Regions from separate parts of the Homo sapiens genome. Here region 2 is linked to region 1. The links come from fine-mapping of genetic effects on gene expression. Tissue or cell type: whole blood. Region 1 holds a variant in brackets; the other region holds the start of a gene. All regions are shown on one strand. Distances are from middle to middle.

The links. PIP is the estimated chance that this variant, and not a neighbour inherited with it, causes the effect.
Region 2: it holds the start of NOSIP, and the variant in region 1 is fine-mapped to the expression of NOSIP in whole blood (TOPMed, PIP 0.98).

Annotation. Positions count from the first base shown.
Region 1 is chr19:49,554,221-49,562,399 of GRCh38, reverse strand. NOSIP (nitric oxide synthase interacting protein) reads left to right here. Exons shown (of 9, transcript NM_001270960.2): 2 at 1,708-1,778; 3 at 2,361-2,466; 4 at 3,422-3,503; 5 at 5,151-5,310; 6 at 5,407-5,525; 7 at 5,664-5,851; 8 at 5,975-6,083; 9 at 6,578-6,932. The coding sequence starts at 1,709. The coding sequence ends at 6,649. Among named protein-coding and RNA genes, the nearest start is that of NOSIP, 22 kb to the left of the region's middle. RefSeq lists enhancers at 1,752-1,801, 5,567-6,348. The variant G/A (reference allele first, on the strand shown) is at 3,177.
Region 2 is chr19:49,577,179-49,585,343 of GRCh38, reverse strand. It overlaps NOSIP (nitric oxide synthase interacting protein), which reads left to right and starts at 4,788. Exons shown (of 9, transcript NM_001270960.2): 1 at 4,788-4,829. It overlaps PRRG2 (proline rich and Gla domain 2), which reads right to left and starts at 4,028. Exons shown (of 7, transcript NM_000951.3): 1 at 3,863-4,028; 2 at 2,040-2,137; 3 at 1,627-1,802; 4 at 1,392-1,431. The coding sequence starts at 2,124. RefSeq lists an enhancer at 111-736.

The sequences.
Region 1 (8,179 bases):
GTAATCCCAGCACTTTGGGAGGCTGAGGCAGGTGGATCACCTGAGGTCAGGAGCTCAAGACCAGCCTGGCCAACACGGTGAAACCCCGTCTCTACTAAAAATACAAAAAAATTAGCCAGGCGTGGTGGCAGGCACCTGTAATCCCTGCTATTTGGGAAGCTGAGGCAGGAGAATCGCTTTAACTTGGGAGGCAGAGGTTTCAGTGAGCCAAGATCATGCTATTGCATTCCAGTCTGGGCAACAAGAGTGAAACTCCGTCTCAAAAAACAAACAAACAAACAGGCATGCAGGCTGTTTACTGGCCAAGCAGTCTTGGTGAAAGCTGCCCAGCCTCTGTGGGTTCAGGGCTTCTCCTTTTACAAATGAACTCCAGAAAAGTAGGGGGCTCCCTTCCTCACACCATACACAAAAATTAACTCAAAAAGTAAAAGTTAAAATGATCAAACCCCTAGAAGAAAACATAGGAATAAATGTGCATTATCTTGGCTTAGGCAATGTCTTTTTTTTTTTTTTTTTAATTGTGACAGAGCCTTGCTCTGTCTAGGTTGGAGTGCAGTGGCATGATGTCGGCTCACTGCAACCCCTGCCTCCTGGGCTCAAGTGATTCTCAGTGCCTCAGCCTCCCGAGTAGTTGGGATTACTGGCGTGTGCCACCACGCCCAGCTAATTTTTGTATTTTTAGTAGAGACGGGGTTTCACCATGTTGGCCAGGCTGATCTTGAACTCCTGAACTCAAGTGATCCACCTGACTCAGCCTCCCAAAGTGCTGAGATTACAGGCGTGAGCCACTACACCTGGTCTGAAACCACTTTAAAAGGGTTAATTTTATGGTATGTGAATTGTGTCTCAATAAAGTCATTTAAAAGGGTGGGGGTTGCCCTTAAGTATGGGGAATGATCAAAGGTATCAAAGTAAGGTGGCAAAATGTTGACAGCTGCTGGACCGCAGGACATGGGTACATCATGGGGGTTCCTTATACTATTCTGGTTTTGTATGTGTTTGAAAACTTACAGAATAAAAAAAGCTTTGCTTTTTGAATTGAGCTCCAGGGTTCTGGGGTCTTCTCTTCCTCCTTTACCTGCAGTGGGAGTGGAGGTAGCTCTTCCCCTAGACACAGAGCCCTACTCTGACCTGCCCTCTGATCGGTCGATCTGAGACATAATCACAGCTGCTAGATCCAGTCGCTAGTGGACTGGCAGGCAGCGATTGGGTCAAGCCTTAGCTAAGTGTCAAGCCTTAGCTAAGTGCCCAGCCTTGAGCCAATCACTGGGCTGGTCCACGCCTTGGCCTCAGTCAGAGCTTACAGATATGAGAGGGGAAGGGAAGGTGGAGTGGATTCATCAACAATAGTGGCCCCCTTGGTGTCTTTTTTTTTCCCCTCCATTAAATGGCACAGCCACCACCCTAGCTAATCTGAAGTAGTGGCTAGAATTTGAACTCTGGTCTCTCACCCTCTTACCTCCAAACAAAGAGTTTTGTTGTTAAAGGTGCTATTTTCACATATAAATGAGTCTAGGTGAGTCTGGAAGGAGGACTTCCTGGAGGAGGCCTGGCGACCACATGCCCTCCCTCTCTTCCACCTCACCCCCCTTCTCCGCCTCCGCTTTCCCATCAAGGGGGGCAGATCAGCTCTGAGGGCTGCAGAGGTCTTCCCTGTGCTGCCTGCCTCCGGTAACCACAGTCCTGCCACTGTCCCTTCCTCCCTAGGATGACGCGGCATGGCAAGAACTGCACCGCAGGGGCCGTCTACACCTACCACGAGAAGAAGAAGGACACAGGTGCAGGGCTGGGGTGGGAAGAGGCGGGACATGGCTGTGTCTTGGAGTCACCCTCTCCCCTCGTGCCCCAGGTTTTGCTTCCTCTGTCCCTGTCTCTCTCCCGCCCCCGATATACACTGATGGCCATGACCATGTAAACAACAGCTGGGTGATCCCATGACCCCATGTGGCCCGGCACTGTGTTCTCTGCCTTCTGCGCATGAACTCACTCCTCCCAACAGAGTGTCAGGGAGGGTGCTCTTGTTACCCCATGTTCCAGAGGAAGAAACTGAGGCCCAAAGAGGGACAGGCACTTGAGCTTGGTCACAGTCAGAAGGGTGGAGGGGAGTCAGCCGTCAGCCCCTCCACCAAGCTGCCACTCAGTGACCAGGCCTGTCTGCCTCTCACCCTCCAGGGTTGACAACTCCCTGTGGGTTCAGCCCGTGGCCCCAGCACACAGGCAGCGGCTCCCAACTGCCTGTTTCTCTCTGAGTCCCCCACCCCCACCACCGCGTTGTCTCTGTGCCTCTCTCTGGGGCTTTGGAGACGGACATGTCTCCTGTTGCTCCGCCCCTCCATCACTCTGCCCATCTCTGTCCCCAGCGGCCTCGGGCTATGGGACCCAGAACATTCGACTGAGCCGGGATGCCGTGAAGGACTTCGACTGCTGTTGTCTCTCCCTGCAGCCTTGCCACGATCCTGTTGTCACGTGAGCTGGGAACAGGGATGGGTAGGTCTGGGTGGGGAGAGCAAGGGAACCGCCAGGAGGAGGCTGTGTGCGTGGGTCTGGCCACCTGCACAGCCAGGGAACCCTGGATGAGCAGTTTATCCTCAGAGCCTCTGTATTCTCACATGGGACATGGGCATGATCCTAGCATCTGTTTCATAGTGTGGAACATATGGAAAGGAACATACTTCTAATGGGGTGTAGGGCTCTCAGAGCATTGCCGAGGCCATCGGAGCAGCTCACCTTTGGACACTTCCCATGACCTACCTCTGATGGTAGGGCAAAGGCTTAACAGGTGCTGAGTCCAGGCACTAAATACGTGCTCAATTAGTGGTATATTTTGTAGAAGACAGTAATTAATGATCAGGGCCCCCAAGGCCACCTTCAGGTTTCTTTTTTTTTTTTGAGACAGAGTCTTCACTTTGTTGCCCAGGCTGGAGTGCAATGGGGACATCTTGGCTCACTGATATCCCAGGCTCAGGTGATCCTCCTGCCTCAGCCCCCACGAGTAGCTGGAACCACGGGTGTGCACTACCACACCTGGCGTTTTTGTTTGTTTTTTGTAGAGAGGGGAGCTCACTTTGTTGCCCAGGCTGGTCTCGAACTCGTGGCTGCAACAATATGTGGCACACATTGTTGCTGAGAGAATGAAGCACTTTCCCTGCAGCTCTATTGGGAGAGGACAGCTGGAA[G/A]CTCAAATCTAGTCTCTACTAGATTCTGCCCCATGTGCCTTTTTCCTTTGCTGATTTTAATCTGCATCCTTTCACTGCAGTAAACTATCACCATGAGTATAACAGCTTTGCTGAGTTCTGTGAATTCTAGCAAATAATTGAACTTGGGACTGATCATGATGACTTCTGCCTATAATCCCAGCACTTCGGGAGGCCGAGGCGGGAGGATCACTTTCTTTCTTTCTCATTGCACCCTGTCTTTGCAGCCCAGATGGCTACCTGTATGAGCGTGAGGCCATCCTGGAGTACATTCTGCACCAGAAGAAGGAGATTGCCCGGCAGATGAAGGTGATGGGGATGGGGAGGAGGCGGCACACGGAGGCAGGAGCTTTTGAGTCTGAGCTCACAGGCAGAGCCACTCAGAGCCCTCTGATCTCAGTTCCCTCTGCCTGGTACACCATTCCCCTCCCCTGCTTCCGGCCAAATCCTTCTCACCGATTTCAGCCCAGATGCTGCCTCCTCTGAGCTCCTGCCAGTCCCCAGGATCTGCCCCAGTCACCTCTTCTCTTAGCACTTAGCATAGTTGTAGCTGTACATGTGGCTGTCTGACACATGCCCACTTTCCCTTATGGACTTCGAGTTTTCCCACCCTGTAGCTTAGGTCCTTAGTAAAGATATGCTAAATGGGTCGGGGGTGGTGGCTCACACCTGTAATCCCAGGACTTTGGGAGGCCGAGGCAGGCGGATCACTTGAGGTCAACAGTTAGAGGCCAGCCTGGCCAACATGGTGAAACCCTGTCTGTACTAAAAATAAAAAAATAAAAAAAAAAATTGAGCCGGGCATGGCGGGCGCCTGTAATCCCAGCTACTCAGGAAGCTGAGGCAGGAGAATCGCTTGAACCCATGAGGTAGAGGTCGCAGTGAGCTGAGATGGCACCGCTGCACTTCAGCCTGGGTAACCGAGCGAGATTCTGTTTCAAAAAAAAAAAAAAAAAAAAAGATGTGCTACGTGAATTGACATCACCTCATTTTTTCTGGGCCTCAGTTTCATCGTCTGTAAAACGGGCTGACGGCCAAATCAGAGGACACAGCAGGGCACCTGGGAGGTACACGCAGATGAGCATTCTCAAGGCGTGTTACTGGGAACCCGGCCTGGCCTTCCATGGACAAAGCCATTTGATGGGTAGGAGGGGCCCTGTTTGAGGCACAGTGGGTCTGTCCCCCTCTTCCCCTGCCTGGTTGCTGGCGCTCAGGAAACACTACAGGTCACATGCTTATTGGGCTTTTTGTCCCAAGCAGGTGGCTCCCCCTGTGCCCATGTCCTCCACACAGCCTGGTGGTCATGTCGGAGGCCCTCATGAGCATCCATCACTGTCACTGTTACCTCCTCACTCAGCTGGGTGGCCCAGGGTGGTCTGGAACTGCAGCACCGCCCAGGCAACTGCTGTGCGCCAGGCAGGGCTGAGCTCAGGTCATGGCTTCACTTCTCCCGTCCTCACTCACTGTCCGTCCATAGACATGGGCTCCTCAGCATTCCCTTAGATCTGAAGTCTACATCCCCCGTCCCAAACACGGGCTGGGGCATGCACTGTATAGAAAACTTAATTGGCCAGCAGGTGACATTAATTAAATGCTTAGCTGAGTGCCAGGTGAGGCTCTCCATGCTGTAAACACTCACCTTATGTAACCCTTCAGTGAGCCGCTGAGGTGGGTAACCACTGTTAGGCTGTTTTACAGATGAAGAAACTGAGGCCAGGAGAGGTCATAGTGCTCACTTAGGCCACAGAGTGACAGAGATGGGCTTTGAGCCCTGGCAGTCTGGCTATACAACGCAGTAAGGTTCACACCCACCCAGGGTGGCAGTTACCACCCTCTGCCACATAGTGCCTCCATCAGAGGGTCCCCTTTGTGGGCCTCAGTTTACCTACCTGTGAAATGGGAGGAAGATACCCCCAGCCCCACGGGCAGATGCTCAGCCCACTTTCCCCGACGCAGGCCTACGAGAAGCAGCGGGGCACCCGGCGCGAGGAGCAGAAGGAGCTTCAGCGGGCGGCCTCGCAGGACCATGTGCGGGGCTTCCTGGAGAAGGAGTCGGCTATCGTGAGCCGGCCCCTCAACCCTTTCACAGCCAAGGCCCTCTCGGGCACCAGCCCAGGTGACTCAGGTTGGGCTTCTTGTGGGTTGGGGGGCGGGGCGCCGCGGGCTGGGCGGGCCCAGGGGGCGGCATCTGAGTCCCTTCCTTCCCCCACAGATGATGTCCAACCTGGGCCCAGTGTGGGTCCTCCAAGTAAGGACAAGGACAAAGTGCTGCCCAGCTTCTGGATCCCGTCGCTGACGCCCGAAGCCAAGGCCACCAAGCTGGAGAAGCCGGTGAGCCCCCACAGCGCCCCGGCACGCACGGTGCCAGGGCGCCAGGGTTCCCCACCGTCCTCCTCACGCACAGGGACCACGCGCTCTCCACCTGCGCCAGCCCTGCCTACTGAGCCCGCCTCTCTCTGCCCCTTGCAGTCCCGCACGGTGACCTGCCCCATGTCAGGGAAGCCCCTGCGCATGTCGGACCTGACGCCCGTGCACTTCACACCGCTAGACAGCTCCGTGGACCGCGTGGGGCTCATCACCCGCAGCGAGCGCTACGTGTGTGCCGTGACCCGCGACAGCCTGAGCAACGCCACCCCCTGCGCTGTGCTGCGGCCCTCGTGAGTCACCTGGGAGGGGAGGGAAGGGACCACTCGGGAACCTGCGGGGCGGTCCGGCTTTGGGGCCAGTAGGTCCCCAGGAAGGCCCCTGATCAGAGTCTCCCGCCTTCGGCCTCACCGTAGTGGGGCTGTGGTCACCCTCGAATGCGTGGAGAAGCTGATTCGGAAGGACATGGTGGACCCTGTGACTGGAGACAAACTCACAGACCGCGACATCATCGTGCTGCAGCGGGTAAGAGTCCCACCCCTCCCCTTCCCCCAGCACTCCAAGGCCCCGCCCCTCCCCTTCACCCCCTCCAAGGCTTCGTCCCCTCCCCTTCCCCCAACTCTCCAAGGCCCCGCCTTCTTCTCTGCTCTGTAAGGCCGCCCCCCCCCCCCGCTTTCTCCTGCAAGGCCCCGCCCTTCCCCCCCTCCGCTCTCCTAGGCCCCGCCTCCTCCTTCCTTTTCAAGGCCCCGCCCCTTCCCTGCCTCCAGCCCTCCACGGCTCCACCCCCTCCACACGCTCCCTCCCAAGGCTCCTCCCCTGCCACTCTCTACCCTCTTCTCTGCGCCCTGCGCCCTGTCCATCCGTACCCACTGCGGTCGCCTCGCCCCCTCCCCAACTCCTACTCCTTAGCCAGCAACCCGCTTCACCTTGACCCGCTTAGGAATCCCCACTACCACCTGGAGCCCCACTGGTCACCCCCGGGCCGGCCTCTACCTCGTCCTTCTCTCTACCTCCCCCAGGGCGGTACCGGCTTCGCGGGCTCCGGAGTGAAGCTGCAAGCGGAGAAATCACGGCCGGTGATGCAGGCCTGAGTGTGTGCGGGAGACCAAATAAACCGGCTTGGGTGCGCAACGACGTGGCGCCTTCATTCGCGGCGTGGGCGCCCCGGGGACAGGGCAGGCGAGGATGCAGGGCCGTGCAAACAGTGCTCCTACAGCGCACGCTGGAGTTTGAAAGAGCGGGCTAAGCATATTGAATGTGGTCTCACATTAAGAACAAAATCTGGCCAGGCACGGTGGCTCACGCCTGTAATCCCAGCACTTTCGGAGGCCGAGGCTAGCGTATCACTTGAGGTCAGGAGTTCGAGACCAGCCTGGCCAACATGGTGAAACCTTGTCTCTACTAAAAATACAAAAATTAGCCGGGCATGGTGGTGCGCACTTGTATTCCCAGCTACTCCAGAGGCTGAGGCAGGAGAATCGCTTGAACCCAGGAGGCGGAGGTTGCAGTGAGCCAAGATCGCACCATTGCACTTCAGCCTGGGCAACAGAGCGAGACTCCATCTCAAAGAAGAAAAAAAAAAAAAAACCTGAATAGAACGCAAATGCACAGCATTAAAATTGGTTGAGTGGCCGGAAGTCCAAGTCTAAGCCAAGACCGTGTGAGTGCGCCACTTTAATGAGCTACATAGAAATTTCTCGAGTTCTTTGTTAGGGTTCCCGGATTTTTGCCAGGTTTGAAGAACAGGAAATGCCCAGGAACGTGTCTTCCGGGCTGCAGTGTGATTAGACCCACAAAGGAAGTGCAGTTCTGTGAAAAAGTGCGCAGCACCCGGACTAGGAAAGGCGGTCAGGAGCATCACGCCCCCACCTGTGGCAGCCTGAGGGGGAAAGGAAGAGGAAACCGCGAGTGCAAAGGCCCAGAGGCAGCAACGCACTTTGCAGATTTAAGGAGCAGAGGGCGTACAGGGGAGAGTGAGGGAGCCAGGGCAGAGCGGGGACCAGGAACCAGCCCGGTGGCGTCAGACTTGACTGGGAATGTAGGGGCTGTCCTTAAGGCCTTGTGTTTAATAACCATTGAGTCACAAAAGCAGCTGCTGGGCAGTGTGAAAAACAGCACGGAGACAAGCAAAGATTAAAACAAGACAGGCCGGGTGCGGTGGCTCACGCCTGTAATCCCAGCACTTTGGGAATCTGAGGCGGGTGGATCACTTGAGGTCAGGAGTTCAAGACCAGCCTAGATAGCCGGGTGCGGTGGCTCACGCCTGTAATCCCAGCACTTTGGGAGGCCGAGGCGGGTGGATCACGAGGTCAGGAGTTCAAGACCAGCCTGGCCAACATGGTGAAACCCCCATCTCTACTAAAAATACAAAAATGAGCCGGGTGTGGTGGCCGGCGCCTGTAATCCTAGCTACTCGGGAGGCTGAGGCGGGAGAATTGCTTGAACCCGGGAGGCGGAGGTTGCAGTGAGCTGAGATCGTGCCACTGCACTCCAGCCTGGGCGACAAAGTGAGACTCTGTCTCAAAAAACAACAATAACAACACCAACAACAAAAAACACAGCATTCCTGCCTCGCAGAGCAATGCCACCTAGGTTCTGTCCTTCCTGTTCTTTATGTGAGT
Region 2 (8,165 bases), 23 kb before region 1:
CCAGCCCAGACCTAGGCCTGTTGCTAAGGTGCAGCTACCCCTAGCAACCGGGCCACAAGGGGGTGGGGCATCGGAGGCCCGGAGGGTGGTCCTCCAGTGGGCAGAAGGCCTTGGGTCCTGGAGCCTGGCTAGGTGTGGTTGCTAGGGAGAAGGCCTCCTTAGCAACCAGGCAGCTGCTGGGATGGGGCTGTGGGGGAGGGGAAATCAGCCAGGTACTGCTTCAGGCTTCTTCGTCTGGTCTGGCCTGGCCAGGCCCCGTTGCTAAGGAGCAGCCCCCCTTAGCAACAAGGCTGGCAACAAGATGGGAACAAGATGGCAACCCCTCAGAGAAGGGGTTCTTGGGGGCAAAATGGGCAGGTGAGGATGGGCAGGCTTCCTCCCTTGGTCGTGTTGCTAGAGGGCTGTGTCCCCAGCAATCAAGCTGCCGGAGGGGCTGGTCTTTCCACTTACTCTGGACACCAGGGAAGGGTTCAGGTGGGCCTGCCCCTCTGAGCCTAAGGCCTGACGGGCCCCACAGCTCTAACCTTTCCCTCCACTGACACTTTTCCCTTCCTAGGGACACAGGACTTGCGTCCAATAAGATGTGGTGGGGGGCCTGGCACCTATAATCTCAGCAGTCTGGGACACTGAAGCAGAAGGATTGCTTGAGGCCAGGCATTCAAGACCAGCCTGGGCCACATAGTGAGACCCCGTCTGTACAAAAACTACAAAAATTACCATGGTAATGTGTGCCTGGAGTCCCAATTACTCAGGAGGCTGAGGTGGGAAGATCGCTTGAGCCCGGGAGGTTGAGGCTGCAGTGAGCCAAGATTGTACCACAGCACTCCAGCCTGGGTGACACAGCGAGACCCTGTCTCAAAAATAAATAATTAAAGGCCTGGCGCGGTGGCTCACGCCTGTAATCCCAGCACTTTGGGAGGCCGAGGCGGGCAGATCACGATGCCAGGAGATCAACACCATCCTGGCTAACACGGTGAAACCCCGTCTCTACTAAAAATACAAAAAATTAGCCGGGTGTGGTGGTGGGTGCCTGTAGTCCCAGCTACTCGGGAGGCTGAGGCAGGAGAATGGCGTGAACCCGGGAGGCGGAGCTTGCAGTGAGCCGAGATCGCACCATTGCACTCCGGCCTGGGCAACAGAGCGAGACTCTGTCTCAAAAAAAAAAAAAAAGCAAAAATAAATATTTAAAAATAAAATAAGGTGTGGGGGGCTCCTCAGGCAAGCTGGGGTCTTAAGGGAGGGAACTCCTTTAGCAGCCAGCTTCAGAGAGCACAGAATTGGGGGGCAGACGATTCTTGTACCTAATTTGGGGTGGAGGACGTTGGTTTGGCCTCGCTGGGAAGGGACTACCTTAGCTGCACAGAACAAGATGGCTTCAGCCCCTCACTCACCTCCTTTGCCATTGTAGATGTAGCTCTCCCAAAAGCGCTCCTTGAGGGGGAAGGAGTGGAAAAGAAGGGGAAAAAGCAGGAATTCAGCTGGGAGGTTCACACCCCCAAACTAGCCCATCCTGATTTCTGAGACACCAAGGAGGAGGGAGCTGAAGGCCAGAACCTACCCCTGCAACCTCCCCACAGGTATAGAGAAGAGAGAGGGCCCGAAACTCCAGGGTCTCGAGGCCCTCACCGTGAGAGTGTTGTCCTCAAAATACTCCCTGGCCTCTTCCCAGGAACACCTCTCTTCCAGACACTCCCGTTCCAGGTTCCCTGGTGTGAGCAGCTCCAGGTCCCAGTGGTTGGCTCTTGGAATCCGGGTATGGCTACTCAGGAAGCTCTGGGCCTCTGGGGGACCCAGGAAGACTTCTGGACCCAAAGACATGAGGGACAGAAAAATGGAGGGTCCCTAGGGCTGGAGTCATAGGGGGATGGAAAGCAGTGGGGTCCTGGAGGAAGGAGCAGGGGCTGGGAATCCAGATTCCTGGGTCTGAAGGAGGAAGGGGCTGGGTCCTGGACTCCTGGAAGAGGAAGGACTAGAAACATTCCTGAGTCAGGGGGAGGCCAACGCCAAGTGTCTGGATGCCACTTCCCCCAAACACTCACCTTGGTCTGTCTCCTCACTGGGTGAAGTATCCAGGCAGGTGGTTAATGCCATATATAGCAGCAGCAGAGAGGGGTGGCCCCTCATATTTTCCAGACACCTAGAACCAGGTTTGTTACAGCTGACAAGGGCCTTAGTCCCTGGGTAATGAGGCAGTGCCTCTCTGACTGGCCTCTGTGGTCCACGAATGGCAATAATAGCAGCCACTTACACAGCCTGTATTCTGTGCCAGATACTGTTTACCTATATAAACTCATTTTACTTTTTTTTTTTTTTGACATGGAGTCTCGCTCTGTCAGCCAGGCTGGAGTGCAGTGGCACAGTCTCAGCTCACTGCAACCTCTGTGTCCTGGGTTCAAGCGATTCTCGTGCCTCAGCCTACCAAGTAGCTGGGATTACAGGCATGCGCCACCACACCCGCTAATTTTCTTTTTTTTTTGAGACAGAGTCTCGCTCTGTCACCCAGGCTAGAGTGCATTGGTGTGATCTCCGCTCACTGCACACTCCACCCCCCAGGTTCATGCCATTCTCCTGCCTCAGCCTCCCGAGTAGCTGGGACTACAGGTGCCGGCCACCATGCCCGGCTAATTTTTTTGTATTTTTAGTAGAGATGGGGTTTCACTGTGTTAGTCAGGATGGTCTCGATCTCCTGACCTCGTGATCTGCCCGCCTCAGCCTCCCAAAGTGAATTTTCATATTTTTAGTAGAGATGGGGTTTCACCATGTTGGCCAGGCTGGTCTTGAATTCCTGACCTCAAGTGATCTGCCTGCCTCAGCCTCCCAAAGTGCTGGTGCTGGGATTACAGGCGTGAGCCACTGTGCCCGGCCTCAACTCATTTTACTTTTCACAGGAGTCATACAAAAATTAGCCAGGCGTGGTTGTGGGCGCCTGTAATCCCAACTACTTGGGAGGCTGAGCCAGAATAATCACTTGAAAGGGGAGACAGAGGTTGCAGTGAGCCGAGACTGTGCCACTGCACTCCAGCCTGGGTGACAGAGCGAGATTCCATGTCAAAAACAAAACAAAACAAAACTTTTCACAGGAGTTTTTTTTTTTTTTTTTTTTTAGACAGAGTCTCGCTCTGTCACCCAGGCTGGAGTGCAGTGGCGCTATCTCAGCTCACTGTGACCTCTGCCTCCTGGGTTCAAGCGATTCTCCTGACTCAGCCTCCCGGGTAGTTGAGATTACAGGTGCGCACCACCACGCCTGGCTAATTTTTTGTATTTTTAGTAGAGATGGGGTTTCACCATGTTGGCCAGGCTGGTCTCAAACTCCTGACCTCAAGTGATCCACCCGCCTCGGCCTCCCAAAGTGCTGGGATTACAGGTGTGAGCCACTGCGCCCGACCAGGAGTCCTATTATTATCCCCAGTATAGAGAACAGGAAACTGAGGCACAGAGAGGTAATATAGCTTGCCGAAGGTCACACAGTGTGCAAGTGTGAGAGCCAGGATTTCAGTGAAGGCAGTGTCCGCCAGAGAAGAAAGCAAGGAGCAGGCAGCTTATCTTTCTTTCCCCACTGTGTCTACAGCACCTGACACAGATGCTTATAAACATGTCCACTGGTGATCTGGAGTCTTCCCTTCCTGGTAATTTCCACTTGTGCCTCTTTCTGTGCTCATTGTCACATCCACCCACAGACAACAAAGATTACGAGAGAGGCAGAGGCAGGGGATTAGTTATATTATTGGGTCTAGGGACCTAAGTGGGCAGGGGCCCTGGACTCCTGGGCCTAGGAGCCCCAAACTTCTGGGTCTCGGAGGGGCGGGGAGCCAGGATGCCTGGGTCCCCAAGCCAGGCTCTTCCTCCAGGGACATTCACTTACCTGCCCAGAAATGTGAGCACTGCCCCTTCCTCTTTAATCGAGAACTCCTTGGCCAGCTACAGCCAGCTGTGAAAGGGGACAGGGAAGAGGGGAGGGGATAAGGAGGAGGGGCGCCCCACTCCCGGTAACCAGGCCTGATCCCCGTTTCTGGCAGGTGGGCGGAACTTGCCATTACCTGCCCTGGGCGGGACTCAGGTAAGGGACAAAGTATTTAAAGGGACCTTGGGATAAAGGACTTAAAGGCCAGAGCTCCATGAGGAAGCCAAGGTGTCGAATACCATGGGATACCTGGGGGATTAGATTCGACCCTCCTCCTCCCTCCCGACCCCTACCCGCTCTGGCTCTCCCCTGGGAGTTCGTCTGTCCGAGCTAGAAAAATTAATATCTAGGTCTCTAGGTATCTAGAAACTAGCGGGAACGATATGCCTTAGTCCCTGGGACAGCTGGGCAGTGCCGCAGTAAATCCCTGTTTCCTGAGAGCGACTTGAACGGCTTTGATTTTCAATTTCCCAATGGCTCTGTCTGTAAAATGGGAGCGTAGTTGTCTCTTCTCAATTGTTTTAAGATGCAGCAAGAAAAGTGGATGATATATTTGGGAAAGTGGGCTTCCCGATCTCTAGGGGAAGTGATTAGTCCTTAAATTTGGGCTTGGAGAGACTCAAAACCTGGGAACCAAGCAGGAAAAAACGATCTCCCTGGGAAATGCCTCGTACATAGTAAGCGTTCCCCATATTCCCACCAGTTTCAATATCCGGAACTTTCGATTAGCTACTCACGTTTCCGGAGAGAGAAAGAGAAGAGAGGACTTGAGCAAGCCAGGCGAGGCACTTCCGCAACTAGGGGCAGCTCTACTTCCGGTGCCTTCTGCTGGGCGGAAGTGGGCGGAGCGGAGGGGGAAAATAGTGCTCCTTTCCGGTGTCGGGGCACAGTTGAAGAAGCGACCGAGGGACTGGGAGTCGTTAGTGAGGTGAGTTCGAGGCGGTGCAGGAAGAGTGTTGCTGGGATCGCTTTCCTGCGGGCTAGAGGCCTGGGGTCTTGAGGGAGACTGGGGCAAGATTTTGGATTCCCGATTCCCTGTCAATCATTATTAATACAGCTGTCCGGGCGCCCCAAGTTTGAAGCTGAACTACACTCTGCTGGAGGTGGCCAACCGTCCATCGGGCAGTTCTCTCTCTCTTTGTCTCTCTCTCTCACTATAAACTCAGTCAAGTGGTAGCTAGCATCGGCCAGTTCTCCTGAGAGTTACAGTTCTGCTGTAGATGATGGCTATTTGCTGGTGGTCCCAAGGGAAGGAGTGGACTGGGATTGCTGGGGGTCTAAGGAGTGGGAGTTGAGGAGGGAGAACTCCTTTCCTGGCCTCAGTTTCTCAGACTGTGGTGGGACGGCGGGCGATACTAGATTGTGCAGTCATCCATCGCCACCTTCTCTTCACCTTTTTGACAGCCCCTTCCCTTTCGGGGTTGGTGCAGGGATTCACGTTTTCTTGTGTGGAGCTTCGGGGTCAGGCAGTCATGGATTCCCATTCTGATTGTGCTGCTAATTCTGTGAACTTGGGGCTTGAACGGTCCTTGAGGCAGTTTGATGTTAATGTTTTCTTACGAAAATGTTCAAACTTATATAAAAGTGAGAGAAGAATACAGGAATTCCTGTCACCCAAATCACCAATGATTATTTTTGCCATACTTGCTGTATTTTTTTAAACTTAAAGAGATTAAAACAAATCGTAGGCATCATGACACTTAAGGATTGTCAAAAGACAAAATTGCAACACATTTAGTGAGAAGATCTTAATTGGCATTTATTCGTGAATCTACAATCAAACAACATCTAATTATGGAAAATAGCGTGAGTGTTCCGATGAGCTGAGCAGAGGTTGTTTTCAGAGACAAAGGGCTGAGAAAATCAGAAACGGAAAACAAAAAGCTAGTTGATTAAATTGATTAACTTGATTAAATTTCTAAGTTAAAGGTTAAAGTAGAGGGGACTTCCTTTATCAGGTGGGCTAAAACTGGGTTGTTTGGGGATTTGGCTATTATCTCTCTCCTGATATCTCAGAAGATCAGATATCAACTTAGTTTTGGCTTGGAAGCATGGAACTTTAGCATGAGTGTCTCCATTTTGGTTTGGTCTGTTGAACCTAGTGCAGGAGCTCAATCCAAACCAATGACCTTCTATAAATTTTATCTAACAGGGTGCGTGTGTAAAAACCAGAAACATTGCTGATATGACCACAATACCATCATCACACTTTAAAAGAACAACCGTAATTCTAGACTACTATCCATTACGTGGTGCAGAGTCAAGTCCAGTGTAACTGTGGGTTTGTTGGAATCAGGATATAGTTAAGTAATTGCTATCGTCTTTTACATCTCTCTTAATTTAGAACTGTTCCCCCTTCCACTCCACTTTGGTTATTTCTTGGTGTAATCGATTCATTGAAGAAACTAATTCTAGTTCAGTTGATCATCCCACCATCTGAATTTGTCCCGTTTGCTTTTTTGTGGTCTCATTTTACCTGCTTCTGTTTTCTTTCTTTTTTTTTTTAAGTATTTAAAAATAGGCCAGACACAGTGGCTCATGCCTGTAATCCCAGCACTTTGGGAGGCCAAGGCGGGCGGATCATGAGATCAGGAGATCAAGACCATCCTGGCTAACACGGTGAAACCCCTTAGCCGGGCATGATGGCAGGCACCTGTAGTCCCAGCTACTCAGGAGGCTGAGGCAGGAGAATTGCGTGAACCCGGGAGGCAGAGCTTGCAGTGAGCCGAGATCACGCCACTGCACTCTAGCCTGGGCGACAGAGTGAGACTCTGTCTCAAAAAAAAAAAAGAAAAAATAGATAGAGACAAGGTGTCACTATGTTGCCCAGGCTGGTCTCAAACTCCTGGGCTTAAGCGATCCTCCTGCCTTGGCCTCCCAAAGTGCTGTGCTTAGATTACAGGTGTGAGCCATTGAGCCCGGCCTCATTTTACTTGTTTCCTCATGCCAGGGATCAGCTAATTATGTTCTACAGACCAAACTCAAATCCTGCCAGCTACCTGTTTTAAAAATCCCCATTGGGCAGGCACAGTGGCTCATGCCTGTAATCCTTGCACTTTGGGAGGTGAAGGCAGGTGGATCATCTGAGGTCAGGAGTTCGAAACCAGCCTGGCCAACATGGTAAAACCTCATCTCTACTAAAAATACAAAAATTGGCTGGTCATGGTGGCTGGCACCTATAATCCCAGCTACTCAGGAGGCTGAGGCAGGAGAATTGCTTGAACCCTAGGGACAGAGGTTGCAGTGAGCTGAGATCATGCCACTTCACTCCAGCCTGGGCAAAAGAGCATAACTCCCTCTCAAAAAAAAAAAGCATTAGTGGGATATGATTTACCTAACATATAGTTCACCCATTGAAAATATACAATTCAGTGGTGTTTAGTACGTTGACAGAGTTGTGCAACCATCAACACTATCATTTTAAGAATATTTTCATCACCCAAAAAGAAACCCTGGTACTCATTAGCAGTCATTCCCTATTTCCTCCCAATCCTTCCCACCCCAGTCTTTGGCAGCCACTACTCTGCTATATCTGTGGATTTGCCTAATCTGGGTATTTTGCACAAATGAAACCATAAAATATTATTGTGACTGCCTTCCTTCTTTCATTTAGCATGTTTTCAAGGTTCACCTATGTTGTGGCATGTATCAATACTTCTTTTTTTTTTTTTTTTTCCCGAGACACGGCCTTGCTCTGTTACCCAGGCTGGAGTGCAGTGGTTCGATCATGGCTCACTGCAGCCTCAACCTCCTGGGTTCAAGTGATCCTCCTGCCTTGGCCTCCCAAAGTACTGGGATTACAGGTGTGAGCCATCGGCGCCCAGCCAGCTACTTTATTCTTTTTATGGCTGGATAATATTCCTTTACCCAAGATATACTTCTTTTCTTTTTTTTTCTTTTTTTGAGACAGAGTCTTGCTCTGTCACCCAGGCTGGAGTGCAGTGGCGTGATCTCGGCTCCCAGGTTTGAGCGACTCTCCTGCCTCAGCCTCCCGACTAGCTGGGGCTACAGGCATGCGCTACCACGCCTAGCTAATTTTTGTATTTTTAGTAGAGATGGGGTTTCGCCATGTTGGCCAGGATGGTCTCGATTTCTTGACCTCATGATCCGCCCGCTTTGGCCTCCCAAAGTGCTGGGATTACAGGCATGAGCCACCGCGCCCCGCCTGCATGGATGTATGTTTTTATTTCTATTGGCAGTGGAATTGCTGGGTCAAAAGGTGACTATTTAACCTTTTGAGAAACTGTGACTTTTCCAGAATGGC